Regions from separate parts of the Homo sapiens genome. Here all the other regions are linked to region 2. The links come from fine-mapping of genetic effects on gene expression. A gene starts in region 2. Each other region holds a variant in brackets. All regions are shown on one strand. Distances are between the middles of the regions.

Region 1 (10,794 bases), 65 kb after region 2:
GCCATCTTTTATTATAACTTGAATTTTTCCTCCCCTTTATCTCCGTGGTGACTGTCTTAATTCAGGACATCATCATTTTTTGTCTGGATTACTGAACTAGCGTCATAGATGATCTTGGTCTTCTGTCTTGTCTTTTCCAATGCATATTACAAATCGCCCTTTCAAAATTCTCATCTCACAATTTCATGCTTGTATACTTCTTTCAGCTGATCTTGTTTGTCTCCAGGATAGAATCCAAGCTCTTGAGAAGAACATGCATGACCCTTTGTGATCTGTTTTTTTCTTGCCTCTACTTCTGTCTCGCTGTTTCTTTTTACTTTAGCATACGAAATTACTTGCTGTTTCTATGATGAGCCATGAGCCTTTACATATGCTGTTTCCATTGTCCGGGATATTTTCTCCCTGCCCACTGTGCCTACTTTTGTTTGCATCCCATGTGACATTCAAATGTGCGTACACTCTCTGTCTTTCTCACATATACACATATTTATAAATATGGGTTTTATATACAGTAGAGAGCAGATAGAGAGGTAATGTAGGTATGATAAACTTACAAGACTTGCTTCAGAATTGCTTGTGGTATCATATTACTGTGATTAGTGAAAATAGACTCAATATAATTTTTGTATATTTTTCTCTTAAGTTATATTGTTATAATAAATTATCCTTTGAGAAATAATTGTACAAAATGAATTCTGCTCCTTTTCTGGAAAGAAAATTTGGGTGAATGAAAAACTTTTTCTTTTCTTCTATTTCTAAAGAGCCAAACTAACATCAGATGCAGAGAAGGAATCAGTAATGATGTTTGGACGGAACCTTCGTCAGCTCCTTTTAACAAGCCCTGTTCCAGGGCGCACCTTAATGGGAGTGGATCCTGGTTATAAACATGGTTGCAAATTAGCTATAATTTCTCCTACTAGTAAGTTGTCTTGCAATTTTCCATGTAAAAGTTGTTTGGTTGGTTATAAGTTTCACTTCATACATTTCATGAGGATTTGGAAATAATGTTAATTTTAAAGGCTTAAAAAGTGGTTTTCTCACATACAGGGGTGTTGGGAACCAGATAATCAAACTTCATTTTTCTCTCATTTGTTGATCAAACTCCTCAATATACAACTATCATTTATATGCTTCCTATATCTCAGTAGAGATATTGAGGATTAATTAGGCTCGGACTTGAACTCTATTAATTCCCCATCAGATTCTATTATTGTGATGCATTTATATATGATGCATTTTAATTCTGCTTATATTTTAAATACCAAAAGACATTTTTATTGTTTTGCTCAATTTTTTTTCCTGTTTACTTACATTTACACTGATATTCTTCATTTCTTTTGCATTTCCGTGCTTCCATTTGAGATCATTTTCTTTCTGCCTGAAGAACTCTATGCTATTACTTTTAATGAGTCACATTGTCTTAGTTTTAGTTTGTCTGAAAACATCTCTGTTTTGCCTTCATTTTTGAAGAATATTTTTTGCTTGGTGTAGAATTCAAGATTGGCAGTTACTTTCAGTACTTTAAAGATGTCATTCTTTTTTTTTTTTTTGGCTACTGTAATTTTTGTTGAGAAGTCAGCCAAACTGTGGTTATTTGTTATTGTTCCTTTGAAGGTAATATGTCCTTTTCCTCTGGCTGCTAAGATTTTCTCTTTGTGTTTCTCAGTTTTCTTATGATGTGCTTCAGTGGGTGTGTATGTATGGGTTTTCTTGTCTTTTCTTTTCTGCATGAATTCCACTTAGGGTTTGTGGAGCTTCTAGCATCTCTTTCTGGAACTCCAATTACATACATATTATACCTTTCAGTTTCTTCTCTCCTTTTTGTTTATTTTCTGTTGATCATCTAAGTTAATTAATCCTCTATCCTGCTATGTCTAATTTGTTACTAAAACCATCTACTGGGTTCAAGTGGTTGGTTTTTCAGTTTTAGAATTTCCATTTGATACTTTGAAAAATAGGGTTATAGCTCCCTATGAACTTCTTTATTTCTAATGTTTTTGATCTTTTAACTTCTTGTTTTATTTTCTATTAGCCTTTACTATTTTAATTTTTTAAGTTTAGATTTTCATTTCTGAAATAATTTTTTCTTTCATCTCGAATTCATTCCCAGTTTATCTCATCTAATTTCTGAGATTTTCTAATTTTGACTTATGTTATTCTTTTATTTATTTAACTTTTACTGAGTCAGGGTCTTGCTCTTTTACCCAGGCTGGAGCACAGTGGCGTGATCTCAGCTCACTGCAGCCTCTGCTTCCTGTGCTCAAACTATCCTCCCACCTCAGCCTCCCGAGTAGCTGGGACCATAGGCACGCACCACCATGCCTGCCTTTTTTTTTTTTTTTTTTTTGTATTTTTAGTAGAGACGGAGTTTCGTCATGTTGCCCAGGCTGGTCTTGAAATCCTGAGCTCAAGCTATGTGCCTGCCTTGGCCTTCCAAAGTGCTGGGATTACCAGCATGAGCCAGAATTAACGTTACTCTTATTTTCTGTAATGTTTTTTTTTAAGAAGCTTGTTCTCATACATTAGGCACATCTTTCTGTAAGGACATTATATTAGTCTTTTAAAAATTTTTTTGCTTAAAAAAATAATCATTCTATATAGAATTTGACTATCATGCATTTCTTTTGTTTAGTTTTACATACGTTAGTTTGAACTTTTAGTAGAAGCTGGGTCAGGCAAGTTGTTCTCACTGTATATCTCTAGAACTTGCTCTTCTGTTTTTTCCAAATCATTAAAAAAAAAAACTCTGTGTGGATTGAGAGATAGTTTATAGTTTCTGGAATCTGCTTCTCTGTTGCTTTCCTTTATTTTATCTGGGCTTTCTTTTTCCTTTGCTGTTGCTATCTTTACTTTGCTCAGTTTGAATGTGATTACCAATTGTTTCTCCTCAGTGTGGAATTTTTGTCTTTAAAGGTATCTTTTACTAGTTAGTTTCAAGAGTTCATAGGGATCAGTGTTTTCCAATCCTTTCAGAAGTACTGGATCCCCTTTGTGCTGAATCTCTCTCAGTTTCAGCTCCTGTTCTCAAACTGACTGTTGAGATTTCCAGGGAAGTAGCCTTTGACATTTTTGGGATTCTCCTGTTCTCAGTTCCATCATATATTCCACTGTTTCTTTCTGCTTCCTTCCATGCAGATGCTGATGCATAGGTGTCTTGTCAGTACATTGTTCCCACCTGCTTTTTTGGAGGGTGGGGGTTTGTGGGGATATTTTATCTATGTTCTAGATATAGTCGTGACTTTTTGTTTTTGTTATCCTAGTTGTCTTTTTATGCTGTTCATTTTACAGCCAGTGGGAAATATATTTTATCAGTGTTTTTTTTTTTTGCATCTGTTCATATATCATGTGGCTTTTGTCCTTTACTATGTTGCTGTGATTAATTATATTACTAGAATTTTTTAAAATGTCAAGTCACACTTTCCTTAGATTAATGGAACTTGGTTATGATACTTTCTTTTGGGTGTGTTGTTAGATCAGTTTTCAGTTATTGTATTGCTTATAGGATAATTGTTCTAAAAATGTCACAAACACATCTATATTCTTAAGCTGTTTTGGTAAGATATTTCTAATTATCTGTTTTCATAATTTAATATAAAGTTGTTTATAATGGTAGATATCTTTTAAACCTGTGTTCAATCTCTAGTTATATCTTCTTTTTATTCCTAATATAATTCCTGTATTTGTATCTTCTATCCTTTCTTTTACTTGATTGGTATTGCTAAAAGTATGTTTTTCTCTTAAGTGATTTGTAACTACACTTTGTTGATCTTTTCTGTTGCATTTTTTTCTGTTAATTTTTGCTTTTAACTTCAACATTTTCTATCTTCTGCTTTCTTTGGGTTATTTTGCTGTTCTTTTCCTAACTTGTAAGTTAGTCTCTTAGCTCAGTTTTATTCTTTAGGTAGTTATCTTCAAATTTTAAAAAATACTTTTAATCAAAATAATTTTAATTATTTTAAATTTAATTGTTATAAATATTTTCAATAAAAAATATTTTTCTTTATAATGCAATATAGAAAAGCTCATAAGTCTTAAATATGCACAAGGTAAATAAAGTCATGTATCTACAACCAGAAAAAAAGAAATAGGATAGTCTCACAACAGTGTCTGACATATACTAACAATTCAGTTAGTGTTTGCTTTTGCTACTATTAATGTTAGATGTTAGTGAAAACCATTTTTCTTTTAGGTATCCTAGCATATTCTCCAATTAATAGTAGTTTTGTGTAGCAAACAGAATCCTGTGAAATTGGAAAGAGCAATACTTCAGAGAGGTTAGGAAGAATCTGATTTAGTGAATATGAATAGTTCAGACTTCATTATAAAAAACAAGCCAGTCTCCTTTTCTGTTACAACTTGCTTAACAAAATCATTCATGTGTTTCACTTTGTAATTTCTTATAAAATGGCTTATTCTTTTCATTTTTTAAAGGTCAGATACTTCATACTGATGTGGTTTACTTGCATTGTGGACAAGGCTTCCGAGAGGCGGAGAAAATAAAGACACTTTTGCTGAATTTCAAGTATGAAAATAAGTAATCTTTTGAATATATCAGTGGCTCAGTCAACCAGAGATACCTTTGAAGCCCCTAATTTGGAGGGAGGGATTAAGGGAGGTGCCTTTGTGAGAGACAATAAACCATATAAAACAGTTCTGGGGCAAATTGCTGGAGAACTCTGCATGTGGAGACTTGAGAAACGCTGCTCCCTTCCTTTGCCACCATTACAAATAAAGGAGGTAATATGGGCAGATGTGAGCAGTTCATTCTTCTGTTCCAATTTTCTCCCTCTCTCCCTGCCTTCTTTCCATCTGAGGAATAGATGTGGTTATAGTTAGAAGTTTCAGAAATTGACAATATATTATATAATTTAATCATAATATCTTTATTACGGCTTAGATGGCTTAGAATGCTCCAGAGTTGACTTATCTCTGATTTTGGTTCCTTCTTGATGGGAAGAAAGCTGACTTTTTTGAGATAGTGTGACAGTAAAATACTTCTCTGCTGCCTCCTATACCAAATGCAGGGCAGTGTCTTTTATTCCATATAAGTCTGTGTTTTCCTTATGCAACAGTGGACAGGTTGCTTGTATATATGAGAGAATAAGAGAATCATATAATAGTATTTGTGCATTCTGTACATTTTCTCCAGCTGATTTCAAAGCATGCCTTGAAATTCAGTTTGTCATTCTGTTTCTGCCTTGAAGCTGCAGCACAGTAGTGATTGGAAATGGAACTGCCTGCAGGGAAACAGAAGCTTACTTTGCTGACCTGATAATGAAGAATTATTTTGCACCACTGGATGTTGTTTACTGGTAAGGCTATTACATATATCTCTTTTCTTGGAGAAGCATGGGAACTTTAAAGTTGCTTTTGTGATGAATCCTCCCTTCTCTTTTTAAGATGTACATCTTCTTTGCCCTCCAGACCACCTCTTGGTGTTCATGAGAACTTTGCAGGATAATGTAAAGTGTCTGACTCTTGGAGAAATTTGAGACAGGAATGATTAGAGCAGGACAGAGTCCAGAAACCTCTTACAGAAGCAGCACGTTAGGGCTCAGTTTCATTGGATTTTCTAGGCTATACATTGTGTGAGGGTTCTAGTTAACTATTGAATAATAAGTAGAATGATGTACCAGGCTAGCAGCTAGTAGACTGTGAATAACTTAGCCTT[T/C]TTCTCCCAAAGCTTTGAAGCCTATGAATCATTACCCTTCAGAACTGAGAGCCAAGGTAAGTATTATGAATTAAAAAGTATTTCCAGTATTCTTTCCTCATTTATCCCTTGGTCACAAACTTTTATTTCATATAGGCATACAGATAACTTGTGAATAGCTTTGGATTAGAAAGACCCAATTTCTCTAGTCTTGCCCCTGCATTTGTAGTAGTTCTGCTTTCTTTCACCATTGTTTCCCTACTTCCTCTTTGGATCTCAATAGTCATGTCTTCCTTTTCCAAACTATAGTAGAATATTAAGTCCTAAAGGATTTAATTCTAGGAGAGAGAGTAGTTATAATGGCTGATATTTAACAGAAAGTGATCAAGAGCTATCTCCCACTGCTAGTGAGAAAACTAATAACTAAAAGAATGGTTGACTGATGAGCAGGTGACTGACAGGATCAACAAAGTAACAGAAAGTAAAACCTAACACAGGAAGAATTCTAGGATTTGTGTAGGTAGGCCAAAAGGTAAAGGCCAGGCAGTTATTATAGTCAAGAGTGCCAAGAGTGTAGTCAGAGTCAGTCAGAAAAACAAACTCAGGGTAACAAGGGGAGTAAGAGAAGGTGAGGAACAAACCGATAGGTGCCATGGGATCATGATTCAAGAAGGAAACAGATTGAAACATCCACTGCAGAATTTTTCCCTCTTTCTCTGGTTGTAATTTAAGTTGGCCTGGGAAATACGGTGGATCTTCCCTATTCTGGGAACTGCAAACGTGCACCCAGTCCTTTTGAGAAACTAACACAAGCACTGATGTAGCTGGTTCAGTTTATTTCAGGTACCTTCTCTGATTTTTTTTTAACTTGTTCACATTAATTTCATGTAAATATCTTGCATACATTTGTAGTGGTTATAAGTACAACTTTCAAATCATAAAAAATATTAAGTAGTGAAGATGTCTTCAGTTTTTTCTTCATTTGCTTATAGAATATCCCTTTATTGAACTTTAGGCAGTATGTACTATTAGAAAGGAAAGGATGAACTGTGGGGTCAGACAAATCTGGGTTCATCTGTTTTTTTTTTTTTTTTTTTTTTTTTTTTTTTTAATTGAGACAGAGTCTCGCTCTGTCACCCAGGCTGGAGTGCAGTGGCACAATCTTGGCTCACTGCAAGCTCTGTGTCCCAGGTTCATGCCACTCTCCTGCCTCAGCCTCCCGAGTAGCTGGAACTGCAGGCACCCGCCACCACACCCGGCTAATTTTTTGTATTTTTAGTAGAGATGGAGTTTCACCGTGTTAGCCAGGATGATCTTGATCTCTTAACCTCGTGATCCGCCTGCCTCAGCCTCCCAAAGTGCTGCGATTACAGGCATGAGCCACCGCGCCCGGCCTCATCTTTTGTTTTAATCATTTACTAGTTATGTAGGTTTTGAAGAGTTACTTAGCCTTTCTTAGCTTCACTTTCCTTCATTTTTAAAATGGGGAAAAGAATACCTACCTTACAGGTTTTTTAACAGTATTAAAAGTGAGATAACATAAATTAAAACACTAAGGGTTTAATAAACAATATGTTTTTTTATGAGTGTGTTTGTATTTGTTTATATACGTACTTTTATTATAAATATAAATTATATGTCTTTAAAAGTGCTGTGAAATTAGATGCAGTATTTTCTTATGCAAATTAATAAACTTACATAAAGTTTATTTTCACCTTGATGCAATAGGGATGATAGTAAAATCTACCACTTTGGATAGTAATAATGTCTATCGTACTTGTGTAAAATCTATGTATTGTGGTATCATGAGATGTTCAGTCTTATTAATGGATATGAATTAGATGCCATTTTAGTTGAGCCTCACCATAGGTGCTGTGGTATGAAGTGAAGTATGTGGGCTATAGAGACGACCTAGGTTCAGGCCTGCCACCTACTGCCTCTGATTAGCCATATAGTTTTAATCCTCTTTTAGCTTTAGCATCTTCATCTTTGGAAATGTTACTTACCTGTTAGCACCATTGACCACTGTGAAGATTTAAAATGGAATGTGTTATGTATCTCCTATTTTTAAGGCTATTTGTAGTAAATATGTTAAGTGTGGGCTAATCTTTGAGTTTAGGGAGACCCCATTAATATAAATTTTTTTTTTTTTTTTTTTTTTGAGCCGGAGTCTTGCTTTGTTACCCAGGCGGGAGTGCAGTGGCGCGATCTTGGTTCATTGCAAGCTCCACCTCCCAGGTTCATGCCATTCTCCTGCCTCAACCTCCCGAGTAGCTGGGACTACAGGTGCCCGCCACCATGCCTGGCTAATTTTTTTATAGTTTTTAGTAGAGATGGGTTTTCACCGTATTAGCCAGGATCTTTGGTGCCTTCTTTGCACTTTTATGAATATAGTCTCTATTAGGCATTTTCTTTCAGAAGAGCCCCATTTTGTTGCAATTTAAGACTTGCTTTGGATGGTAGTCTTTCTCCTATAGTCTGTTTTCTCCTTTCTGCTATAATTATTTGGGTTTTAAAATCTACCCGTGTGGTTAATTATGGTAGCTATTTTCTACAGTTGAACCATTTTTGCAGTTCTGATTTAACTCTACTTACACTGTATTAGTCTTTTAATGTACTTTTTGCATTTGTTTGCTAATATGTGCTTTTGAAGTTTTTAAATGATGCAGATATCTAATTGGAATTTATAGCAAGTGCTTTAGAAAAATCAGCTGTTTAATTTCATTTTATTATCATTTTGCCAATTCAAAGTGCCTGTTTGAGAAAACCATGTTTTCTCATCTTACACTTTGAAGTTACACTGAAATTGAAATCTCCAGTCTTTCTCTGGCAGCCATTTTTAATACCTTCTGAACAGATAATCTGATAGGTTAATCTATAATCTTGTCAGCCACTCATCCTGAAAAACCTTTTCCAGCCATATCTACCAGCACATTTCCTCTTATCTGTTCCTTCCAACACTCTTTGCCCTGACATGCTGCCATAGGTTAACAAATGCCATGATATATATCCTAATTCATAAACCCCAGGAAACCTGACCCATTCATCTGTCTTTTCTCTCATTCATTTCTCTCCCTACCCTTAAAATACCTTACGAATCATGATACTTACACATATTAGGGGGCAAGTCATCCAAAGGTGCAAATTCTAATTACCAAAGGAGCAAAAAGTTAAACTGGAGTTAAGTTGCAGAATGTAACCATGCTGAGTCTCAGTTATCACATACTGAATTGTGATAGTTGAAGTTGAAATGTTCATGAAAAAATGAAAGTTGAAAATGTTCGTGAAAAATTCTACAGTTTTATGGGTCATTTGTTTAAAGTATATGCTAGAATGGTTTGCAGTTTTCAATCTTTTGACATATGGTAGGCACTCATTTTGCTTTTGTAGTTATACATTAGTTTGTGTTTTTTAGATTTATACATAATGAAATCATACAGTGTATAATCTTTTATTGGCTTCTTTCATGGAGCATGATTATTTTGAGATTTCATCCTTGTTGCTGCAGAAACCAGTGGTTCTTTTTATTCCTGAACAGTATTCATTGTTTGGCTGTATCACAATTAGTTTATTCAATCACCTGTTGATGGATATTCGAGTTGTTGCTAGTTTTTTGCTACTACCAATAAAGCAGCATGAGCATTCATTTACAAGTCTGTATGGATATATGCTGTCATTTCTCTTAGGTAAATAGCTAGGTGTGGAAAGTCTGTGTTGTGTGGTATATGGTATACGGTACATGTTTAACTTAAGAAACTGTCAAGCTTTTTCCCAAGATGGTTGTACCATCTTACTTTCCCACCAACAATGTATCAGAATTCTAGTGGTGGCAGTGGCAGCCCATCTGGAGCAGCTGCTGGGAAGACACTGGCTGCAGCAGGGGAGTTGTGGCTTGGGTTGCATGCTCCACAGGTGATGGGAGCCCCACCTCCTACCAGGTTAGTGGGGCAGAGGAGCCCCATGCTCCTGGGCGCAGTTGCAGCTGCCCAGCTACAGCTCTGGACCTGGGCATCCCTGCACTCTCAGGGGCCTGCGATGCCCCTTCCCCTGCAGGCTCGGAAGTACCTGCTCCACCTCCCTGGCCTCTCCCTGCTCCCAGCACCCGCTCCAGAACAGAGCAAAGTTGTGGCCGAGCCTAGGCACTGTTGCGACCTGGACAGGTGTGCCTGCACTCGAGGCAGTGCTGACACCAGCCCCTGCTGCCTCAGCCTGTTCAGGATTTTGGGCACCAACCAACACAGGAGTGAGGCTGGGGTGGGGTGATGGCTAAGGGCAGCTTGGCACAGGCCTACAGGTGTCCCCTGGCACAAACAGCCCATGCACCATGGATGCATGCTGATGGTGGGAGGCAGACATTCCTGTGCAGCAAGGGGCAGGTCTCAGTGAAACCCCCACCTCCAAGCCAGGGCCTACGTGAAGTCTGGAGGCCAGGTTGCCAGTTCTGGGTGGAGTCTGTGGCCGGGAGTGTGAACTTATGGTACTTTTTCCAGACATGCCCATGGCTGCCCATGGACCAATCAGCATGCATTCCTCCCTTCTGAGCCCATAAAAACCCTGGACTCAGCCAGACTGACACAAATGTTGGGACTACCAGCTATGGGAAGGAGCCACCCACTTTGGGTCTGCTCTCTGCTGAGAGCTGGACACTTGTCAGGAGACCTGTCTGCAGAATGGGGCTACCCACTGCCCATCTCCTCTCCACTGGGAGCTGGACACTCATTGGGATAACCTGCCTGCAGAAAGGGGCTACCCACTGTGGGTCTCCTCTCTGCTGAGAGCTAGACACTCATTGGGACAACCTGCCTGCGGAAAGGAGCTGCCCGCTTTGGGTCTTCTGAGAGCTGTTCTGTCACTCAGTGAAGTTCCTCTCTGCCTTGCTCACCCTCCAGTTGTCCACATACCTCATTCTTCTTGGACATGGGACAAGAACTCTGGTTCCACCAAATGGTGGATCTGAAACAGCTGTAACACAAACAGGGCTGAAACATGCCCTCCTGCCTGCCATGCTGCAGACCTTGAGAAGGAGAAAAGAGCTGCAGCCCTTTGGGGAGCCCAGACCTAGGTGCTCCCTAAGCCAGGGCTATGGCACCCTCTTTGGGACTCTCTGGTTCCTGGCATCTCCCACCTTCCAGGAACCACTGTGT
Region 2 (10,794 bases):
GGATGCCAAAAAATTTAAAAACCTGACAGCATCAAGTTCTGGCAAAAAGTGGTACAACTGGAACTCTCACGCATTTCTGGTGGGAATGCAGAATGATACAGCTACTTTGAAAAACTAAAGACACACTTATGACTCAGCAATTCTGTTCCTAGGTGTTTATTTACCCAAGAGAAATGAAAACGTTTGTCCATACAAAAACTTGTACATGGATGTTCATAGCAGCATTATTCATAACAGACAAAAAGTGGAGACAACTGAAGTCTATCAACTGATGAATGGATAAACAAACTGTGGTATACCCACACAATGGAATGCTAACTGGCAATAAAAATAAACAAACTACTGATGCATGCAATGATGTGCATTAATCTCAAATGTATTATAATAAGTGAAAGAAATGAGACTCAAATGGTTACATGCCATATGATTCCATTTATATAATATTGATATGGTTTGGCTGTGTCCCCACCCAAAATCTCATCTTGAATTGTAATCCCCCAAATCTCCATAATCCCCACGTTTCAAGGGTCAGACCAGGTGGAGGTAATTGGATCATGGGGGTGGTTCCCTCCTTGCTGTCCTCATGATAGTGAATGAGTCTCATGAGATCTGATGGTTTTATAAGCGTCTGGCATTTCCCCTGCTGACACTTACTCTGTCCTGCCACTCTGTGAATAAGGTGCCTGCTTCTCCTTTGCCTTATGCCATGATTGTAAGCTTCCTGAGGCCTCCCCAGCAATGCAGAACTGTGAGTCAATTAAACCTTTCCTTTGTAAATTACCCAGTCTCAAGTATTTCTTCATAGCAGCGTGAGAATGGACTAATAAAGACATTCTGGAAAAGGTAAAATTATTGGAACAGAAAACAGATCAGTGGTTTGCCAGGTGCTGGTGGAAGGGGAAAAGATTGACTATAAAAGGGCATTTTTTTGAATGATTAAAGTGTTCTATATCTTGATTGTGGTGATGGTTACACAACTATATGTGTTTGCAAGAATAAAAAAGCTGACTTTTACTCTATGTAAATTATACTTCAATAAACCTGACTAAAAAAATAGTACACACAAATTTGGACATAGACTGATCTGACACACCATGCTTTTCTGAATTTGAATTCCAGTGTGTGAAGGCTCTAGTACTAAAATTCTGACAATATGCATTCCTAGATGAATGTTTCAAGCAAGCACTTTGCAGGATAGTTTCAATTTATTAAGGTGGAAGATGGACCAATGGTACTAGATATAATATTTAGTTCTGAATTACAGTATCCAGACATGGCTACCTGTGGTTAGTCCAGATTTGACTAAAATAAATCTGGCCCCATTATGCTGCCATTTATCCCTTCCTTGAAACCCAGCCAGCCATGGCATCATCAGGATCTTAATGAGCCCTCTGGGGTTTCCATACTTGGATCTCAGACTGTTTAATAGATATTTTAGGCCTTTGAGATGGTCCCTGAGCACTACTGATGAGAAACTCAACAGGAGAAAAAATTTCAATATGTTTGCTCATGATTGCAACCAATTGAATGCCTCTTAGCCAGTGACTTTGCAAGGTAAGTGATCAGTGGAAGAGTGGACCATGCAATAGATATGGTATTTCATCTATTATTTATGTTTTTTATGGGTCTTAATCCTATTTATAACTGCATTCATTACAAAATACCTTAGGAATTTGTACAAAATAAGTAGGATAAAGCACTGAACATTTTAGTTTTCACCTAAAGATACAAATTATATTGTATTTCAATATGCAGTTTCCATAATTTTACTTTGTGTGAGATAAATTTGATGTATACAATCCCTTTGATTCCAATTCCTTGACAAATCTGTACAATTAATTTCCTCAACCTTAACTGATGCTTCCTCCAGATCCATTTAATATTTAATAAAGACTCAGGTTTTAATCTCTTGAATCTTTACTCTTTCATAAGAAAGACTGACAAAGTTACTCTGGCTAGAACAATGGCATCAGCACTAGTCTAGCACTTTGGAGTCATGCTGCTGTTCCCAGCTAGATTGAAAGAGTTAATAGGACAGGCCAAATTTGAGAACCCACCTACCAGCCTGGTCAGCCTCACTAATAAGAAACTCCTTTTTCATTTGGGAAACAGAAGTAGGCCCCTCTCTGTTTACTAGTCTCTTTCATTTTGCAGTAAATCTCCAGATTTCTGGCTGAATTAGTCAGAGAAGGTCATTGAAGCCAAAGAGCTTTAGTGTTTAGGAATAAGAACGTCTGACAGTGGGAAAAGAGGGGAGATAGGAGCTAATACATACTTTTTTTTTTTTTTTTTTTGAGATAGAGTCTCACTCTGTCATCCAGGCTGGAGTGCAGAGTGCAGTGGCGCAATCTTGGCTCACTGCAACATCCACCTCCTGGGCTCAAGCGATTCTCCTGCCTCAGCCTCCAGAGTAGCTGGGACCACAGGTGCCCACTACAATGCCTGGCTAATTAAATATGCAAATTTTTGAACTAGGGCTCAGTTTGTTTGCTCATTCTTTAATCTGAAACAGCCATTATTATTATCATTTTTGCCTTTGCTAGTTGTATTAGAATTCTCCAGAGAAACAGAACTAGTAGGGTGTGTGTGTGTGTGTTTGTGTAATAAATACAGCATAAAGATATATGAGAATATTTTTTAGGGAATTAGCTCACAAAATTATAGAGGCTGAGAAGTCCAGTGATTGGCCATCTGCAAGCTGGAGGGCCAGGGAAGCTGGCAGTAGGGCTCAGTCCAAGTCTGAAGGTCTCAGAACCAGAGAAGCCAATGGTGTAACTCTCACTGCATGGCCAAAAGCCTGAGAACATGGGGCTGAGAGGGTACACTGATTTAAGTCCTGGAGTCCAAAGGAACATGCAGTTCTAATGCTTAAAGGCAGGAGAAAAAGTGTGTCCCAGCTCCAAAAGAGAGAGAAAGAAAATATTCCTTTCCTCTTTGTTCTATCTGGGCCTCAGCCAATTGGATAGTGTCCACCGAAATTGGGTGAGGGCAGATCTTCCTTACTTAGTCTACTGATTCAAATGTCAGTCTCTTCTGGAAATACTCTCACAGACACACACAGAAGTAATGTTTTATCAGCTGTCTGAGCATCCCTTAATCCAGTCAAGATGACACCCAAAATTAACCATCACACTGATTGACTCTCAGAGATAAAATGTTTGAATTTTCATAAGTACACTTGATTTTTAAAATGGCAACCCACCTTCTGTGTCAAGAGCTTTAACTTACTTTTCTCATAAGAGAAATTTGTTTGTACTCTAGACATATTATTGGGTCCAGGAGTTAGTGTACTATTTTTAATGAGTACCTATTATATGTCAAGCATTATTAGGCACTGTGTGGGTGGCGGGAGAAGGTGGAGAGGGGAGGAAAATTTGTTTTTACTTTAGACATGTTTTTGGGTCCAGGAGTTAGTCTACTATATTATTGAGTACCTATTATATGTTAAGCATTATTAGGCACTGTGTAGGTGGAGGGAGAAGTTGGAGAGGGGGAGATAAAAAATTACCAAGAGTTAGTTCCTAGATCCAAATATCTATTAGTAGGTGAAACAGTTGCATCTATTAATATATTAAGAATTTTTGTTCTTATGAAACTTAGTTTGAGGCCAATAGAGAGAATAGCTTTGTTATGTTTCAGGTGGTTAGACAGTACTTTATTTAGAGTATTTAGAGATTCGACAGTTCTGGAGCACCTTAAACATTGAGAGTCTCACTGGCCACCATAGTGGAGCGAGAAAAGGTCTTTGCTTTGAGTTTGTGGTACAGCTGGCCATCTGTATCTGCATTCATGGATATGGAACCTGCAGATGTGGTGGGCCAACTTTTTCTATCACTGATTGGTTGAGTATCTGTAAATTTTGCTATCTGTGGGGGGTCCTCAGACCAATCCCCTGTGGATAGACAGCAAATTGTATGTGGATACCTTTCAGAGTACTTGCTTTGGAGTAAAGCAGATTATTGGATTTGAATCTCAGATCTACAATTTATTAGCTGATGTGACCTTAGATGAATTATTTAACTTCTTTATACCTGGTATTCTCATTTATAAAAATGGTTTAATAGCAATATTGCATTGGGGTAATATGTGAATTATATACATAAATACATCTAAAAGCATTAACTTAGTGCCTGGCACAGGTAAGTAATCAATAAAGGTAAGTTATTACTATTATTATTACATTTGCCCTGGGGAGCTAGAACCCATAGGGGAAGGACTTGAAAACAGATAATAACATACAAATGATAATGTATCAGTGAATATCATGGGAAGAGCTATATACTTTGGAGGGATAAAACAACCTCCATCAAATCCAAAACATGTTTTCATTACTCCCAAACCCTATTGCATAGTCTCAGGTGGGTGTCCGGATTATTCCAGGCTTTCAGTCTAAACCCATGAATTTCTTGGAATTCAGCACTTGAGATCCAAAAGTAAACAATAGATTGGGCAATGTCCTAGACAGAAAAGGCAGTTTTTGTGGGAGGGCCTGTTTTATACTTAAGTGATTACAAATTTTCCTTGACAGCGTGTAGTGGGAGTGACTCTCTTATAGAATTCCAAGGGAAATATTCTCTGGACAGTCCTTATTGGCCTTTAGAGTAGGCCACTACCTACATACTTTAATTTTAGAGAACCTGCTTCAGATTTTATTTTCCCCAGATGTCTGATGTCTAAAATCTTAACAGGCTATTTATTTTTGTGATTTTTTTTTTCTTCCCCAGCTGTAAGGCAAAAATCCCTTGTGGGGAGAGGAAAGTCAAGCTTCAATGCTTTGCTGGCCCACTCTTACTCTCCTCCTCACTGTAGTGTGGCTACTACCTGCATACCCAACCCTTGAAGCTAGACTGTTTTGCTTGGGTGTCTGTTTCCTCTGGCTGTATCTGGTTCCTACTCTTGGTCGTAAATTCCTCCAGGGCAGGACTTATGTCAAAAGACTTTGCAGTATATTAGTTCACCTTTACCCTTACTACCTCTGCAATGATTGGAATGTCCCCTTCAAAAATTCAAGTTGAAACTTGTCATTGTAATAGTATGAAGAGGTGGGACCTTTAGGAAATGATTAGGTCATGAATGAGTTAATTCCATTATCACAGGAGGGTTAGTTATTTCGGGAGTCAATTGGGTTCACATGCCTCCCCCACCCCTACCCCAGTATGATGCCCTCCATCATATTTTGACACAACAATAATGCCCTCTGTCTTGGACTTCCCAGCCTTCAGAACTACAAGCCAAACAAATCTCTTTCTTTATAAATCTACCAGTCTATGGTATTTGGTTACAGCAGCAGAAAATTGACCAAGACAACCCCTTACCATAAACCTGAGTAGCAAATGCAACATCAAAAGTAGGTGAATAGTAAGTAGTACATTATTGTTGTTGATTTCTATGATCTGGTTTCTCTTCCCACAATCCTGAACGGTAAGGTGTTCTCTAGTATTTCTTCAGGACCATAAATTGTGAAGGAGACTGTGATTGTAGTAGACAATTCTAGGCCTTCTGGAACCATCACTAAAGGCAACATACGACTGTGCTAATTAAAAGGAAAAAAAAATCCCTAAACAATCTCGGAAACTGATCTTTCCTGGCCAACAATCTCAGATATAGAAGATTAGATTTACTAAATTTAGAAAGAATCCTTTTTTTTTTCCCCCAATCACAAAAATTATCCAGTAAAATCTATGCTCACTTCCGGTAGATCTGCAACAAGGCACGGTCACAGGTCATTTCAATAACTTGCTAGGCTCTTCAGTACTCAGAGTCCCTGGAAATAAGTCATTAGCAGTGGAAAGCTGCTTTTTAGAATTTTCTAAAACAAATCCATGGGGTTTTGATCTGCTAAATTCGAATGTAGACAACAGCAGCCTTATTTCCCTACTTTTATAATCTAATTTATTTGGCTGTATCTGTGGGCTTAAGAGTTTAGTGTTCTTGGTAAATAACACGTAAAAAAAAAGTCATTTTTCATTTCTACGAACCAGCCCCACCCCGGCGCTCCCTCGGGATCCTCGCTCTAGCCCCGCCTCCGTCCAGCCTGGCTCCGCCCCGTTCGGTAGCGCCGCGCCTTGGAGGTCTGTGGCTAACTTGGTCCGGAAGAAGCGAGGCGGACCTTCTGGCGTTTGAAAAACTTCCGGCGGGAACCGGAAGGTGCGGTGGCACTCACGGAATCTCGGGTCTTCTGACGTGCCGGGCGGGAAGGTGAGCTGTGCGTGCGCCTTGGCGGTCGTCTTGCGGGTTCTCAAGAGCCCGGCGTCCGGGCTCCGGGATCTTTGGGGCCATTAAAAAAGTTCTGAGCGCTCATTTGGGCAATAACACCCCTTTTTTAAAAGTGAGAAGTTCATTACATTTTACTGTCAGCGGTCTCTCACAACCGACCACCCGAAAACCCCTCCTAGCTACCTCGTGACACCTCTTTTCAGCCAAATTGCTGCAGCTCTTAGCGCATAACAGACATAGAAAAGCCTGGGCAAGCCTGTTTTTTTTTTTTTTGAGACGGAGTCTCCCTCTGTCGCCCAGGCTGGAGTGTAGTGGAGCGATCTCGGCTCACTGCAAGCTCCGCCTCCCGGATTCACGCCATTCGCCTGCCTCAGCCTCCCGAGTAGCTGGGGCTACAGGCGCCCGTCATCACACCCGGCTAATTTACCTGGATTGTTTTTATACCTAAAATTATCGGAGGTGGGAGAGGAAGCACCCTTTTCACGGTCATGGTGGCCCTGTCTGAATCAACTGCACCTTCTGTAGTGCGCCTGGCATGTAGGAGGCGCTCAGTAACCGGAGGAAAGGAATGAATTGGGAACTCTCTAGGCAACTTTCCTCGAACCCCTCACGTGACATGTCATTAACATATTGTGTGTGGAATGGGAAACGAGACTAGTCTTGGTGTTCCAGGCACTGGGCTATAGTCCTTTGCCACATATCTTTCCCCTTTGAGTAAACTGTTTCACCTCATTGGGTCTCAGATTTCTGAATATAGCGGGACTGTCTGATCTCAGGTTCTTTCAGCTCTAGTATTTTGTTTTTGTGACTTGGGAATCTGCTAACATTCAAGCACTCTGTTGGTCCTTCATGGAAACTTGTTTAGGTGCTTCTTAAGAAATTGTCCTCCTTTGTTTGCCTTCTTGAATTTAAATTTTTTTTTCCAATTTTAATTTAGTATTTGTTAGTGTGCACGTCCTTTTGCCCCTTTGTCCTGATTTGCAGTCGTCCTAGTTTAGTGGCTCTTCCCTTAGTAACATCATAGCAACCTCCAAATTATTGGTTTGGAATATGCTCATGTGCCTACAGTGATTAAGATAGTTTGAAAGGAGGGAAAAATCCCAAGTCACTGAAGAATAGGAATATTCTTATGTGCCATCACTTCTTCAGAAAGAGATGAATGCAATGTGTGGCATTGCCTAAGAGTGGTGGAAAATAAATGTATATTCCTCTGTAGAGACCATATTTGTACATATTATGTTCATTTAATAGTTGTAGGGCATCTGTTAAGTGCTAGGTTCTATGATATGGAAGTGAATAAGGCACATGCATTTCCTTCTTTCATGGTATTTACTCTCTTGACAGCAGTGCAAGCAATAAACAAGTAAAATAAAAATAATTACAGATTGTGTTATAACCTACTGTATACAGGAAGTAAATAGGCTCCTTTTAAAATATAATTGAGAAACCTATTTTAGGCCTGAAATGTTAAGATCTAAGGGATGCAAGGAGCCAGCCAATTGACAAGCAGGGGGAAGAATACTCCAGGCAGAGAGTACCTGAGGTGGGAAAGAATGTTATGACAAGAGCTGAGGAGCTCCAGCAAGTAGTAAAGGTGGTTAGAAAGGTGAGCAGGGCTCAGTCCGACAGGGCCTTTTCAAAGGCCTCATAAAAATGTGGCTTGATTCTAAGTGAAGGATGGGGTGGGAAGTAATTCGTTGTTTCTAAAGCATATTCTAAATGATCTTGAGTTGATAAGTGGAGAATGAGTTGCAGGGGCAAGAGTGGAAGTAGGGAGGGCAGTTAAGAGGCGAGTGTGGTAGTTCAAGTGAGGGAGGTTGAGGACTAAAGGCTCACTGAAGATCGTGGAGATTCAAGACATTTTGGAGGAGGATCTTATGTGACTTACTAATAGTCTGGATATGTGAGATGAAAGAAAAAAAGATTTGTAACATTTTGACTTAGCAAATGGAACTTTGGAGGATGATAATGTGTTCATTTTCTTGATTGTAGTGATATGTATACATATGTCAAAACATCAAATTTGCACACTTTAAACATGTGCAGTGTATTGCATGTCAATTATATGTCAATGAAGCTGTTAAAGAATTTTCTGGCCAGGCGCCATGGCTCACACTTGTAATCCCAGCACTTTGGGAGGCCGAGGCAGGCAGATCACCTGAGGCCAGGAGTTCGAGACCAGCCTGGCCAACGTGACGAACCCCGTCTCTATCAAAAATAGAAAAATTAGCTGGGTGTGGTGGTACACGCCTGTAATCCCAGTTACTTAGGAGGCTAAGGCAGGAGAATTGCTTGAACCTGGGAGGCAGAGTTTGCAGTGAGCTGAGATCACTCCAGGCTGGGTGACAGAGTGAGACCGTCTCAAAAAAAAAAAAAAATTTTTTTTTTCAAGGTTCTGGCTTAGCAAATAGGTGGGTGCCACTTATTGAGATGGGAAGGACTGGAATAGGAACAGGTTTTAGAGCAAGAAATGGTCATCAAGAGTTCCATTGTGGATGTGTTAAGTTAACTGTGAGACATCTAAATAGTTTCAGAGACAGGCAGTTTATTATAGAAATCTGAATGTTAAAGGCACGGTTTGGGATGGAGGGATTAGGATTGTTAATAAGTAGGTGACATCGGTATGTAAAACCGTGGAGATGGATGAGGTTTTGGTTAATCTAACAAGTTTTATGACACAAAGTAAGAGGATATGGGAGTAGTGGAGATGGAGAAACAGGCCTCAAGAATATTGGTGTTTAAACTGGAGAATACATACTCCTGGGGGTGTACCTGTCGTAGGTAGTTTTAAAGACATAATTTCCAAGTCTTCAGCTTTTGTATATATTCTTTCTAAATCTGATCTGCTTGAAATTGGCTTGTGTGTTCATGCAGATTCTGCTTTCCCACCTTTCCTTTTACATTGATATTTTTAACATTTGTGAAAAGAAATATTACAACTCACTCATCTTTCCATGGTATATTGCTTTCGGGGTGCCTTATAAAGAGGCAGTTGGAAATATTTGATTTAGGGGAGCCTTCTTTAAGGATAATGGTTAAGCAAAAACATAAGCCTGCCAAGGGTTTGCCTGTCCCTATTTTAAACACATTTCTGTTAAGGCTGAAGTGTGGAGATAGAATTAGTATATGGTAGTCTGTGTGGGAATGTTCTGAATTCAGGCATATTGTAGAATGTGGTGGTAGGAGTGATTGTAAGGTGATCTGGGTGGGTTGTTTGATGGGAAGCTTAGCACCTTCAAGTTTTTACTCTTGGACTGGTTAGATTCTCCAGAGAAAAGCCTTCCCATTCTCCTCCCTAGAGGGCAGTATTTTAGGAATTTAGTGGCGGAAGACTAGGGTTCTCTGCCTTTAGCATTCAGTCTGTATGGTTCCCATGCCCACAGTCTAGACTGTTTCATTAATACCTTCTCCAGAGAATAAACTTACAGTCTTTTTCCTGGGGCAGTTGCCTAATAGCATGAAGTGAGGTAGGACACTTAGAGATATTCCTTTGTCAGTTTATACACAGCCCTAACCCGTTTCACCTTTAATTCCAAAGGTATCAGCTACTGCTTCATATGAATTTTTTTTTTTTAGAATACTGCAGGGTAAATTGGTTTGGTTCTCATATGCTCCCACTACTGGCTTGGGATTTTAATTTTTATGTGTTGCAATTTGTTAGTCTTTTTGGTTTTGGAATTTTGAGGAGTCATATTTAGGAAAACCTCCATTTCCCCATCTCCCCTCAATAGTGTGAAAAGAATCACCTTTATTTCTTAGTTCTTTTATAGTTTTAATTTGTACATTTTAAACTATTAGTTATTGGGGAATAAATTTTTGTTAATGGTGTGGAGGTAGGAATTAAACTCCTTTTTTTCTTCTAGAGGAATAGCTAGTTGTCTCAATACCATTTATTGAATAATCCATTTTTACCCTGCCCTGATTTTAAATGCCACCCTTGTCATACACTAACTTCCTCCATTCTTATTTTGTTGTGGTAAGATACACATAATATAAAAATCACAATTACCTGTTCTTTCATGATCAATGTCTAAAAAATACTAATTTGAGAAAGGATGATCTTTATAACCTAATATGCCAAAAAGAGAGTGAAGGGAAAGATGGAAGATTATCCTGTCTACTTCCTGCAGACTGCTTTCCTGTTGTTCTTTTGGTTCCCTCTGAGCACTATTTTGCCCAATCATTGTGTACTTACTGGACTGAGTTGAGCTATAGCTGCTGGGAGAACATATTCCCTTTTGTGACAACCCCTTTAGTATTTCCATGAGAGATTATTTCCTCTTCTAAGCGGATGTTAGAACCAGAGGCATTATAACATATGACTGGGTCAGAAACTTGTTTAAAGGGTTCCAAACATGTCAGAGCCTAGTGTAGTCCTTATAGTTTGATGGTTTTATGGTAATAATATCAGGCAGCCACTTATAAAGTCCTTTATTAATTAATTTTAACAGCTAATTAATCTTAACAGCTAAAGTAATTTTATTTACTTTCCCGTATTATGTGATGTCTCTGGTTATTTGTCTTAACTTTTTTTTACAGCTTGGCCTTCGAATTTGGTAAATAGTTTTTAGTCACATA
Region 3 (10,794 bases), 43 kb after region 2:
TGCAGAGGAGAGGAAAGGAGGAGATGACCTAGTTGACTACTGTTGCTAGAAAGAACTTTTGTATTTTCTCAGTGGCTCCAGCAGGAATGAGTTGAAGCAAAATAATTGCTCAGGTTTTAAAATGTGTTTTTATAAGTAATTATGCCACTTAAATTTGGTTCAGTATTATAAATTGTTATTGGAAGCTGTCCTGACACATCCTTTTGTTTCTCTTTTTTTAAGTTTTTAATTGACTGTGACTGTCTTAGTGATTAGAAAAGTCTGATATTTAGATCAGAGCTATTGGTTTGATTTCTATAGATAGTTTTGATCTTTTGCATAATTGCAGATGGTTTCTGAATTCATTTAGGCATTTTATGGGAAGATTGAGTAGATATATAAATAGATCTGGAGGACTATGCTAGTATGAATAGGCAAAGAGTCCTTTTGATGGGGTAGTAATATCAATTTCATAGCTGGGCATCATTAAAAAAACTCACTTGGTAATGGCTTAACTTTTTTTGCTATCCTTATTTCTATATATTCTTTACTAAAGCACAAATTAATAACTGCTTGTTTTTTGAACACTTGTGTATCTGAACAGGTGCCAGAAGAGACATGTTTGTATCCAGTCATCTCTGGCAAAAGTATCCTCAAAAAAGGTAAATGAGAAAGATGTTGATAAGTTTCTGCTCTACCAGCATTTTTCCTGCAACATAAGAAACATTCACCATCATCAGGTAAATAAAGAAACTGCATGTGCATGCTGATTTCGTAATAATGATAATATTTTGGATTTGCCTGCTACTTTACTAAGAATTTAAATAATTTTATGTCAACTGTTTTCTTTTTTCTTTATATAAATTCTTATAATATTGTCATATCCTTGCCGCTTCACAAATTGGGAAGTAATGACCCGGAGAAGTTAACAAGTGACATTGAGAATTATTAGCAGAGCTGACAATATAACATTTTAGGTATCTTGACTTTTTGGCTGGTGATCTTTTTGTTAGACTCTGCTTCCCAGTATCCTTATATTTGAGCTCAATTCTGGATCTCTTCCCTGTGAAATACAAATATGAGATATCTGATTTAGAATAAAGTGTGAGAGGTCTCATTTACTTATATAAATCAGTCATTGTATCTCAGTGTTTTAATTTCATTTTTCAGTTTACTAATTTTTTTTCCTAAGTGTAGTCGTAGGCTATATCTACATTGTGGAATGTGGCTTTTAAATTACATAGGGCAAAAAGGAGATAAAAACCAAAAATACAGTAACACTGGCGTTTATATTTACATATATCATGACATTTATCAGTGTTCTTTATTTCTTTGTATGGCTTCAAGTTACTATCTAGTGCCCTTTCATTCCAGTCTGAAGCACTTCCTGTAATATTTCATGTAAGGCAGGTCTACTAGTGACAAACTTCCTAGTTTTTGTTTTTCTGGAAAATCTTAATTTCTCCTTTTTTAAAAAATTTATGTTTAATTGTGGTAAGATGAACATAACATAAAATGTACCATCATAACCATTTTTAAGCATACAGTTCAGTAATGGGAAGCATAGTCATATTGTTGTGCCACCAATCTCCAGCAATTTTTTTATCATGCAAAACTGAAACTCTATGCCCATTAAACATTTCATTCATTTTTTTATAGAGAGTTTTTAAAATATAGAATTCTTGGTTGATGGTTTTTAATTTTTCCCTTTTAATACTAAATATACCATCCACTCTTATGGTATGGCCTCCATAGTTTTTTATGAGGAATCAGCTGTTAATCTTACGATGCCTTATTCATGACAAGTCTCTTCTCTCTTGCTGCATTCAGGATTCTCTGTCTTTATCTTTTGACAGTTTGATTATAATGTGTCTTGTCATGGGTCTTTCTGAGTTTATCCTACTTGGAGTTTATTGTGATTCTTAGACGTGTAGATTAATGTTTTTCATCAAACTTAAGAAATTCTTCATAATAATTTTAAAAAATATCCTTTCTGCGCCTTTCTCTCCTCTCCTGGGTCTCCCATTATATGTAGAGAGTATGATTGATAGTGTCTCACAGGTCTCAGCCTCTGTTGCTTTCTTTTCTTTATTTTTTTCTTTTTTCTCTGACTGTATATTCCCATTTGACCTATCTTCAGGCTTGTTGATTTATTCTTTGTATTCAAATTTGCTGTTGAACCCCTGGCACATTTTTATTTCAGTCATTGTACTTTTCAGCTCCGTAATTTCTATTTTGTTCTTTTTTATAATTTCTAACTCTTACTTTTCTATATGGTTGAAAGATCATTCTCCTGGCTTTCTTTAGGTCTCTGTTCATGATTTTCTTGAATTCAGCATATTGAATAGAGTTAATTTAAAATCTTTGTTTTGTAAGGTCAATGTCTAAGCTTCCTCATGGACAGTTTTTTTTTTTTTTTTTTTTTTTTTGGTAAAGTCTGGATATGTTGTATTTTATAACTTGGTAACTCTGGAAATCAGATTCTCTCCCCTCCCCTGTTTGTTGTTGCTGCTTGTTTTGGGGTTGGTTTGCTCTAGTGACTTTTCTAAGTATTTTTGTAAATTTTGTTTGCTATGTGTGGCCACTGAGGTCTCCCTTGTTAGCTTAGTAACCATCTAGTTATTTAACAGAGATTCCCCTAAATGCCTGGAGCCAAAAACAAAAACAAAATAAACCCTAAAAGAAAAAAATCCCCTAAAAGAAAAAAACCCAAACTCTCCCAGACTTTGCAGATTGGCACTTTGTTGGGGCACTCCTTCAACACTTAGTGAGGCCATTAACAGCTCTGCCGTAGCCTTTTCTTCCTGTTTGCATGGAGCCCAAAGTTCATCTAGAGGTGAAAGCTTAAGGTTCCCTCAGATCTTTTCAGAGCATACACCTAGCCCTCAGCATGCCCAGGAATTTTAAAAAGCCCCTTTTCCCTCAAATATCTCATTTCCAAGTTTATTTTTTCACAGGTTTTTTGTTCTCTGTGTTAGTTGCTCCTGTATTATCCCTTACCCCTCATGGCTGGGGCTAATATATTTGCCTTTAAGTACTTTTGACAAAGGCCACCTGGGAGGCTTCTTCTGTCCTGAGTAAGTTCCAAGGCATGTGAAATAAAGACAAGCCCTTGAGTCAGTTCCTCAGGGACACACCAGACATCAAAACACACAACCATAGTTATTTGAGAATAAGGTCCATATTGCTCCTTCTGCAACCTGCCCTAGGAACGTGGGCTGTCATCTTCAGAGGCCACTGCTGAGCTGGAGACTGGGGTACGTTAAAAGTGCTCTCTTATAGAAATTCTGCAACTTCTTTCTGTGTTTCTTTCGTTGTTATAAAATTTTTATTAGATTCCATAGTTGCGAAAAAGTTAATTCTGACAGTTTTTGCTACCTTACCAGTTACCTTTGTGGAGGGATGGAATTTAGAGTTCCCTACTCCACAATTTTCAGTGATGTCACTCCTAACAACGTCTTTAAAATACAGTATCGCACACTCCTCATTCTATTCCAGAGCTGGAGTGTGGCTTTTAACGTTATATAAAGTTTTCTTTATTACCTTGTTTAATGCTTTTTATCCTGAAGTCTGCTTTGGTATTAGGATTGCCTTGCAACCTGTGCTTTCTTAAAGGAAATTGACCCCACTCTCCCTACTCTTGTTTTAATCTCAGCCCTACAATTATATTAAATGCTTGCCCTTGGTCCTTTTGCCAGAGCTTTCCAAAGCCTTTAGAGTGAATGAAACTTATTCTGTAGTCTAGTATACAGTTGGTAAACTTTTTCTGTAAAGGTCCAGTGAACAAATATTTAAGGTTTTGTGAGCCAGATGGCTTTTGTTGCAACTACGCAACTGCTGTGTAACACAAAATCAGTCATAGACAATGCATAATGAATGAGCATGGTTGTGTTTCAACAAAATTTTATTCACAAAAACAGGTGGCAGGCTGGATTTGACCCATGGGCCATAGTTTGCTAACTTCTGCTCTAGTGAATGTCTGAAGAAAGGTATATGTGTACAATATTCTCTGAGTTCTTACACATTCAAAATTGTTTTCTATGGCCTTAACACTTGAAGGATAGCTTGGCATGGTATAATCACTTTTGTTTGCATTTTCTTTACTTAAGTTTCTTGAATATGTTGCTCTGCTGTTGGCTTCCTTTGTATGTTATATTTGAGAAATCTGATGCCAGTATAATTCTCTGTCTCCTAGAAATGCAAAGAGGTGGGTCCTATGTTGTGTTTTATTTATTTTCTTTATTGGTTTTATAGTTTTTTGAGAAAGGAAGGGGGAGATTTGAAATTAGGAAACTGCCAGTGTTTTTCAAACGCGGAATTTCTCAATAAATAATTTTAAAATTTATTTTTCTTCCTATCTGCATTTTACTGCTATAAAGAGAGAATAATAGAAAAAAAACTAGTATTCCTAACCTTTCATGTAATACTTAATTTTCATCATTAAGAATGTAATTGTTTTGCATGGTGGCACATGCCTGTAGTCCCAGCTACTCAGGACCCTGAGGCAGGAGGATTGCTTGAGTCTAGGATTTCTGGGCTGAAGTGCGCTATGCCGATTGGGTGTTCACATTGAGTTTAGTATCAATATGGTGACCCCACAGGAACGGGAGACCAGCAGGTTGCCTAAGGAGGGGTGAACTGGCCCAGGTCAGAAAAGGAGCAGGTCAAAACTGTGCTGATTAGTAGTGGGATTGCTCCTGTGAATAGCCACTGCATTCCAGCCTGGTCAACAGTGGGACCCTGCCTCTTAAAAAAATAAAAAAGTAATTGTTTTTCATTTAAGATGACACAGATGTGAAAAATTTTTGTTTTGTTGTAACAAGACATGAAGAGTGTGAATTATCCCACAAGTATTTCCTGAAAGGTTATTTTATGTTGGGTCCTGTTTAGGGTGTAGAGGTAACATGGCCCTTGCCCATTTAAAGATTTGAAATGTTTCACTATTATATCTAAAATTGTCAATTTTACTTTTGTGTACACTATATTTACCACATCAGGTGAAGTACATACTTTCAATATTTTGAAAGAAAGTACAGTGAAATTTTACATACGTAGTTATTATAGTCTACTGATACAGGTATAACATAATGAAAAGTAATTTTTAATAGTACCAGTGACTAAGTATACTAACATTCCTTTTGCAGAAGTAGTTTTTCTGTCTTATTTTGTCCACCTTTTATGTTGATTTAATTTTATTGCAACTTTGGAAAAACATTAATGCTTTTATTCTGTTAAAACCTAGCCTTCTAATTTCTGCTTGAAAATATTTTATTGGGCTCTGCATTTTAACTAGTGTGTGTAGCAAATGTGGCATTCTGAGTTAGTGACTGAATTTAAGATTATGATTGACACAGGCTTCTGGGTGTGACAGTATTCAGGCCTGGGAAAGCAGAGCATTTTGGAAATGTCAGTTTTGAAAAACAGCACTGCTGTTTTACGAACTTTTTAGTTTATCATGTACAGGCCGGAGTGATGATATGCTAGGTTACAAAAACAGCTTCCCAATTCCTATAGTGCTGAGACCTCATGTCCTAAATCTGAACCTTACTTTTCAGCCTTTATGTAGATAACCCCAGCACAGTATCACAGAACACAGAAATGAATGCAAATGATGAAAGACAGTGTGGTGAAGGAAAATTACTGTGGAACTCTCTCCAAGTACTGTGGGAATAGCCGTTAATAGCTGCTTAGTAAATTCTTCCAGCTGCATCTTTTTTTCTTTCTTTTTCAAATTGGTCCTTAGTGTGATCTTTTCTACCACATGAATTTGTAACTCAGTCTTCACATTCTCTCATGGGACTTTCTGTTCCTTATCTTTATTGGTGTGTCTTTTTACTGACGTGCAATTTCCTGTGTCTTAACTACCTATTTCCTGTTCAATGTCACCATCTGCAGTAATTCCGCTTTAACCCACT[A/G]CTCACTTTCAATTTCAGTTTCTGTCCCAAGCTTTATTATTTCTGTTACCTTATTCCCTTCTCCACCATGGGTCTTCCTGTGTGTCAGGATTTTTTGTAAGTTTGACGTATTACATTACTAGGTATGGTGAAAAAGAGCAAAAAACCTCCAATAATGTATTGTGATATTATGGTATACTTATGTAAATCGGAATTAAATAACTCTCCTCTATATTGTTGTACTCTACTTAATTTATTAGAGAAAATTTCTTGTATGAAGAACTTCTGTTTACTAAGCTGGCACAGCCTATAGCAAATACGGAAGTCTCTGCTGAGCTCAAACTGAAGTTTATTTTGTATTCACAATTTATTTCTTTATAGATAGTTCTGTGCAGTATTATTGAATATATTGTTTTATGTAAGCTTACTTTTTTTTTTTTTTCTTAGACAGTATCTTGCTCTTTCACCCAGGCTGGAGTGCAGTGGCAGAATCCCACCTCACTGCAAGTTTCGCCTTGCGGGCTGAAGGCATTCTCCCACTTCAGCCTCCTGAGGAGCTGGGACTATGGGCATGCACAAGCACACCTGGCTGATTTTTGTATTTTTTGAGAGTTGGGGTTTCGCCATGTTGCCCAGGCTCATCTTGAACTCCTGAGCTCAACCAGTCCTCCTGCTTTGGCCTCTCAAAGTGCTGGGATTATGAGCATGAGCCCCCATACCCAGCCGAAACATTTATTTCTAAGTGATTGTTCTATTTCTGCTGATGTTTACTTTAGAAATTTCTCAAGTATATAAGAAAAGAAAAAAGTCCCCTATATAATTTTTTTAAAACTCTGACAATTTGTTTGATATTTAAAATTTTACTCAATATTTTTAAAATTTAAATTAAAGTTACAAAAAAATACGCGTTTTATCTTTTGACATTCTTTTCAACATGAAGCACAAATTGAGAAATTTTCGTGGTAGAATTATTTTGTGGTAATATTAAGTTGAATTATTCTAAGCTTGTTTCACCACAGATAGGAAGTCTAAGTTTTTGTTAGAGATCCTCATGGAAATGTGCTAAAATTGTTAAAATATCAGTTTGTGTCCTGTAAAGGGAGAACTTAGTTTATTAAAATCCCATTCATTAAGAGTAATTGGAAGAAAGCCATTAAGAATTAGTGAGAAATCTGAATATATGTTGAAGTGATGTTGTTTAATTTTTAATATATAATATACATAAATATATAGTTACAGACTAGCAGATATTTAAGGGAGGCTGTTAACTTGATTAAATTATTTGGTTAATTTGTGTTACTATTTATCATCTTAATAATTGGTATTAAAGAGTGCTTTAAGAAAAGAGTGTTTTAATTTTCTAATAGGTTTATTGAAGTAAAATTCATATTGCATTTAATGCAACCATTAGAACTTTGTAAGTTCAATGGTTTTTCGTAAATTCACTCAGTTGTGTCACCATTACCACAAGCAATTTTAGGACATTTTTCTCCCAAATATTTCCTTGCATCAAGCTCTAGGCAGCCAACTTTCTATCTCTATAGATTTGTCTGTTCTGGTCATTTCATATAAAGGAATCATACAATATGCAGACTTTTGCCGCTGGTTTCTTTCACTTAGCATAATGGTTTCAGAGTTTGTCTGTTATGGTATGTATTAGTATGCCTTTCCTTTTTATTGCTACGTAATATTACATTATATGGATTCTCCACATTTTACTTATCCATTCATCAGTCAGTGAATAGTTTGGTTGTTTCTACTTTTTGGATATTATGAATAATGCTATGAACATTCGTGTCTAAGTTTTTGTGTGGACATATGTTTTTATTTCTCTTGGATATATACCTAGGAGTATAATTGCTGTGTTATATGGTAGCTTTACATTTAACCTTTTGAGGAACTGCCATATTTTCCAGAGTGGCTATGCCATTTTTACATTCTCACCAGCGGTTTGTGAAGGTTCCGATTTCTCTACATCCCTCCCAACATTTATTGTCCATCTTTTTGTGTTTTGATTTGCATTTCTCTAATGATGCTGAGCATCTATTCATGTACTTATCAGTCATTTGTATATAATTTTTGAACAAATACCTCTTCAGATCTTTTGTACATTTTAAATTGGGTTGTGGCCAGGCGCGATGGCTCACGCCTATAATCCAAGCACTTTGGGAGGTTGAGGCAGGCGGATCGCCTGAGGTCAGGAGTTCGAGACCAGCCTGGCCAACATGGTGAAACCCCATCTCTTAAGAAAATAAATAAATGAATAAATTGGGTTTTGTCTCCTTATTGTTGAGCTGTAGGAGTTTTAAATATATTCTAGATACCCTTATGTGACATATGATTTGCAAAAATTTTTGTCCCATGCCGTGCATTTTCTTTTCACTTTCTTGATACTATTCTTTGAGGCACAAAAACTAAAATTTGTTGAAGTTCAATCTAGTTTTTTGTTATTGATTACACTTTTGGTGTTATATCTAAGAAGGCTTTATGACTTGAGGTCATAAAAATTTTCTCCTTTTTTAATGGAAATTTTATAGTTTTAGTTCTTGTATTAAGGTCTAAGATCAATTTTGAGTTAATTTTTATGTATAGCGTGAAGTAGGGGTCCGTCCACTTTTGTTCTTTTGCATGTGGTGAGTTCTAGTTATTCATGATTTATTGAAAAGATTGGATTTTCTTCATTGAATTATCTTGGTACCCTTGTTGAAAATCAGTTGACACTATATGTATAAGTTTATTTCTGGACTCCGATTCTATTCCATTGTATGTCTATCCTTATGCCAGTCCCCACTGTCTTGATAACTGTGGCTTTGTAGTCAGTTTTGAAATTGGGAAGTGGGAATCTTCCAAGTTTATTTTGATTTTTAAAAATTGACTTGGCTATTCTCAGTCCTTTGAATTACTATATGTGTTTTAAAATTAGTTCACCAGTTTCCACAAAACATGCCAATTGGGATTTGATAGGGATTTCACTGAATTTGTAAATCAACTTGGGGAGTGTTGCCATCTTAGCAATATTAGGCCCTCTGATCCCTGAACATGGGATGTTCATGGGTATTTATTTAGATCTTCTTTAATTTCTTTCAACAATGTTTTGTAGTTTTCATAGTACAGTTGTTCCTTGGTATATACAGGAGATTGATTCCAGGATCCCTGCATATACCCAAATCTATGTATATGCAAGTCCCAGAGTTGGCCCTGCAGAACCCATGTATATGAAAAATCAGCTCTCCTTATGCGTGGGTTTCAGATCCTGCAATTACTGTATTTTCAATCCCTGTTTGGTTGAAAAAAATCCACGTGTAAGTCAACACATGCAGTTTAAACCTGTATTGTTCAAAGGTCAACCGTGTAAGTTGTGAACTTTTTTTGTTAAATTTATTCCTAAGTATTTTATTCCTTTTGGTGGTATCATAAATGGAATTAAAAAAAATTATTTTCAGAATGTTTATTGCTAGTATGTATAAATTAATTTTATTTGTTGAGCTTGTGTTCTGCAACTTTGCTGAACTCTTTATTAGTTCTAATAGTTTTGTAGTGGATTGCTTAGAATTTTCTATATATAAGATCATGTTAGCTGCAAATAGAGAAAGTTTTACATCTTCCTTTCCAATATAGATGGCCTCCCTTCTTTTCCCTGGCTAGAACCTTCAGTACAATGTTGTGAGAGTGGACACGCTTGTCTTGTTCCTGGTCTTTGACCAGTAAATATGATGTTAGCTGTGAGATTTCTGTGCACAAGCCCTTTCTCATATTAAAGAACTTTCCTTATATTTCCAAGTTTTTTGAGTGTTTTTTATCATGAAGGGCTACCTGATTTTGTCAGATGTTTTTCCACATCTATTGAGATGATCATAGGATTTTTGTTATTTATTCTATTGATATAATGTGTTAGGTTAATTGATTTTTTAGATGTTAAATCAACCGGGCATTCCTGGAATTGATTCTAGTTGATCTTGGTGTATAATCCTTCTTATATATTTCTGGATGTGGTTTGCTATTACTTTATTGAGGATTTTTACATCTATATTCATAAGAGATATTGGTTTGTAGTTTTCTTGTGAAGTCTTGTCTGGTTTTTGTATCAGAGTAATACTGGCCTCATAGAAATATATGTGAAGTTTTTCCTTCTCTAATATCTTTTGGAAAGTTTGTGAAGAATGGATATTGATTCTTTTTAGAATGTTTGGTAGAATTCAATGGTGGTGCCATCTGGGCCTGGACATTTATTTGTGGGAAATTTTCAAATTACTAATTCAGTGTCCATACTTTTTATAGGTGTGTTCAGATTTTCTGTTTCTTTTTGGTTTGTTTTTGGTAGTTTGTATCTTTTAGGAATTTGTCCATTTTATCTTAGTTATCTAATTTGTCATACAGTTGCTCATGGTATCTCTTATAATCTTTTTTATTTCTATAAGGTCCTTAGTAGTGGCCTCTCTTTTGTTCCTGATCTTGGTGTTTGAGTGTTTCCTGTTGTTTTTCTTGATTAGTCTAGCGAAAGGTCTGTTAATTTTGTTGATATCTTCAAAGAACCAACTTATGGTTTTGTTGATATTTATTGCTTTTCTATTCTCTATTTTATTTTTACCCTATTATTTATTATTTTCTTCTGCTTGTTTTGGTTTTGTTTATACTTTAAGGAGTGTTTTTAATGTGTTTTAAGACAGTCGTTCTTTTAATATTTTAATTAAGAGCATGGACAGATTGATCTGAAGTTTAAATTCTTTTTTTGCTACTTGCTAGCTTTGTGATTTGCAACAAGTTAGTTTCAGAAAAATTATTATATAAAGTGAAGATAATACACACATTACTGGTGACTCTAAGGATTACTTGAGATAATATATTTAAAGTGCTTAGATAGGCTCTACAATTAGTAATGCTCAATGGATGGTAACAATTTGTAGCTACTAAATATTGCACC

What was found. PIP is the estimated chance that this variant, and not a neighbour inherited with it, causes the effect.
Region 1: its variant is fine-mapped to the expression of SRBD1 in whole blood (TOPMed, PIP above 0.99). The same link has a PIP of 0.9 or more in blood mononuclear cells.
Region 3: its variant is fine-mapped to the expression of SRBD1 in whole blood (TOPMed, PIP 0.99).

The regions. Positions count from the first base shown.
Region 1 is chr2:45,541,250-45,552,043 of GRCh38, reverse strand. It overlaps SRBD1 (S1 RNA binding domain 1), which reads left to right. Exons shown (of 21, transcript NM_018079.5): 12 at 762-919; 13 at 4,432-4,522; 14 at 5,205-5,312. Among named protein-coding and RNA genes, the nearest start is that of SRBD1, 65 kb to the left of the region's middle. The variant T/C (reference allele first, on the strand shown) is at 5,672.
Region 2 is chr2:45,606,623-45,617,416 of GRCh38, reverse strand. SRBD1 (S1 RNA binding domain 1) reads left to right here and starts at 6,150. Exons shown (of 21, transcript NM_018079.5): 1 at 6,150-6,198. RefSeq lists an enhancer at 6,330-6,499.
Region 3 is chr2:45,563,132-45,573,925 of GRCh38, reverse strand. SRBD1 (S1 RNA binding domain 1) reads left to right here. Exons shown (of 21, transcript NM_018079.5): 9 at 584-719. It also overlaps the pseudogene RN7SL414P. Among named protein-coding and RNA genes, the nearest start is that of SRBD1, 43 kb to the left of the region's middle. The variant A/G (reference allele first, on the strand shown) is at 5,895.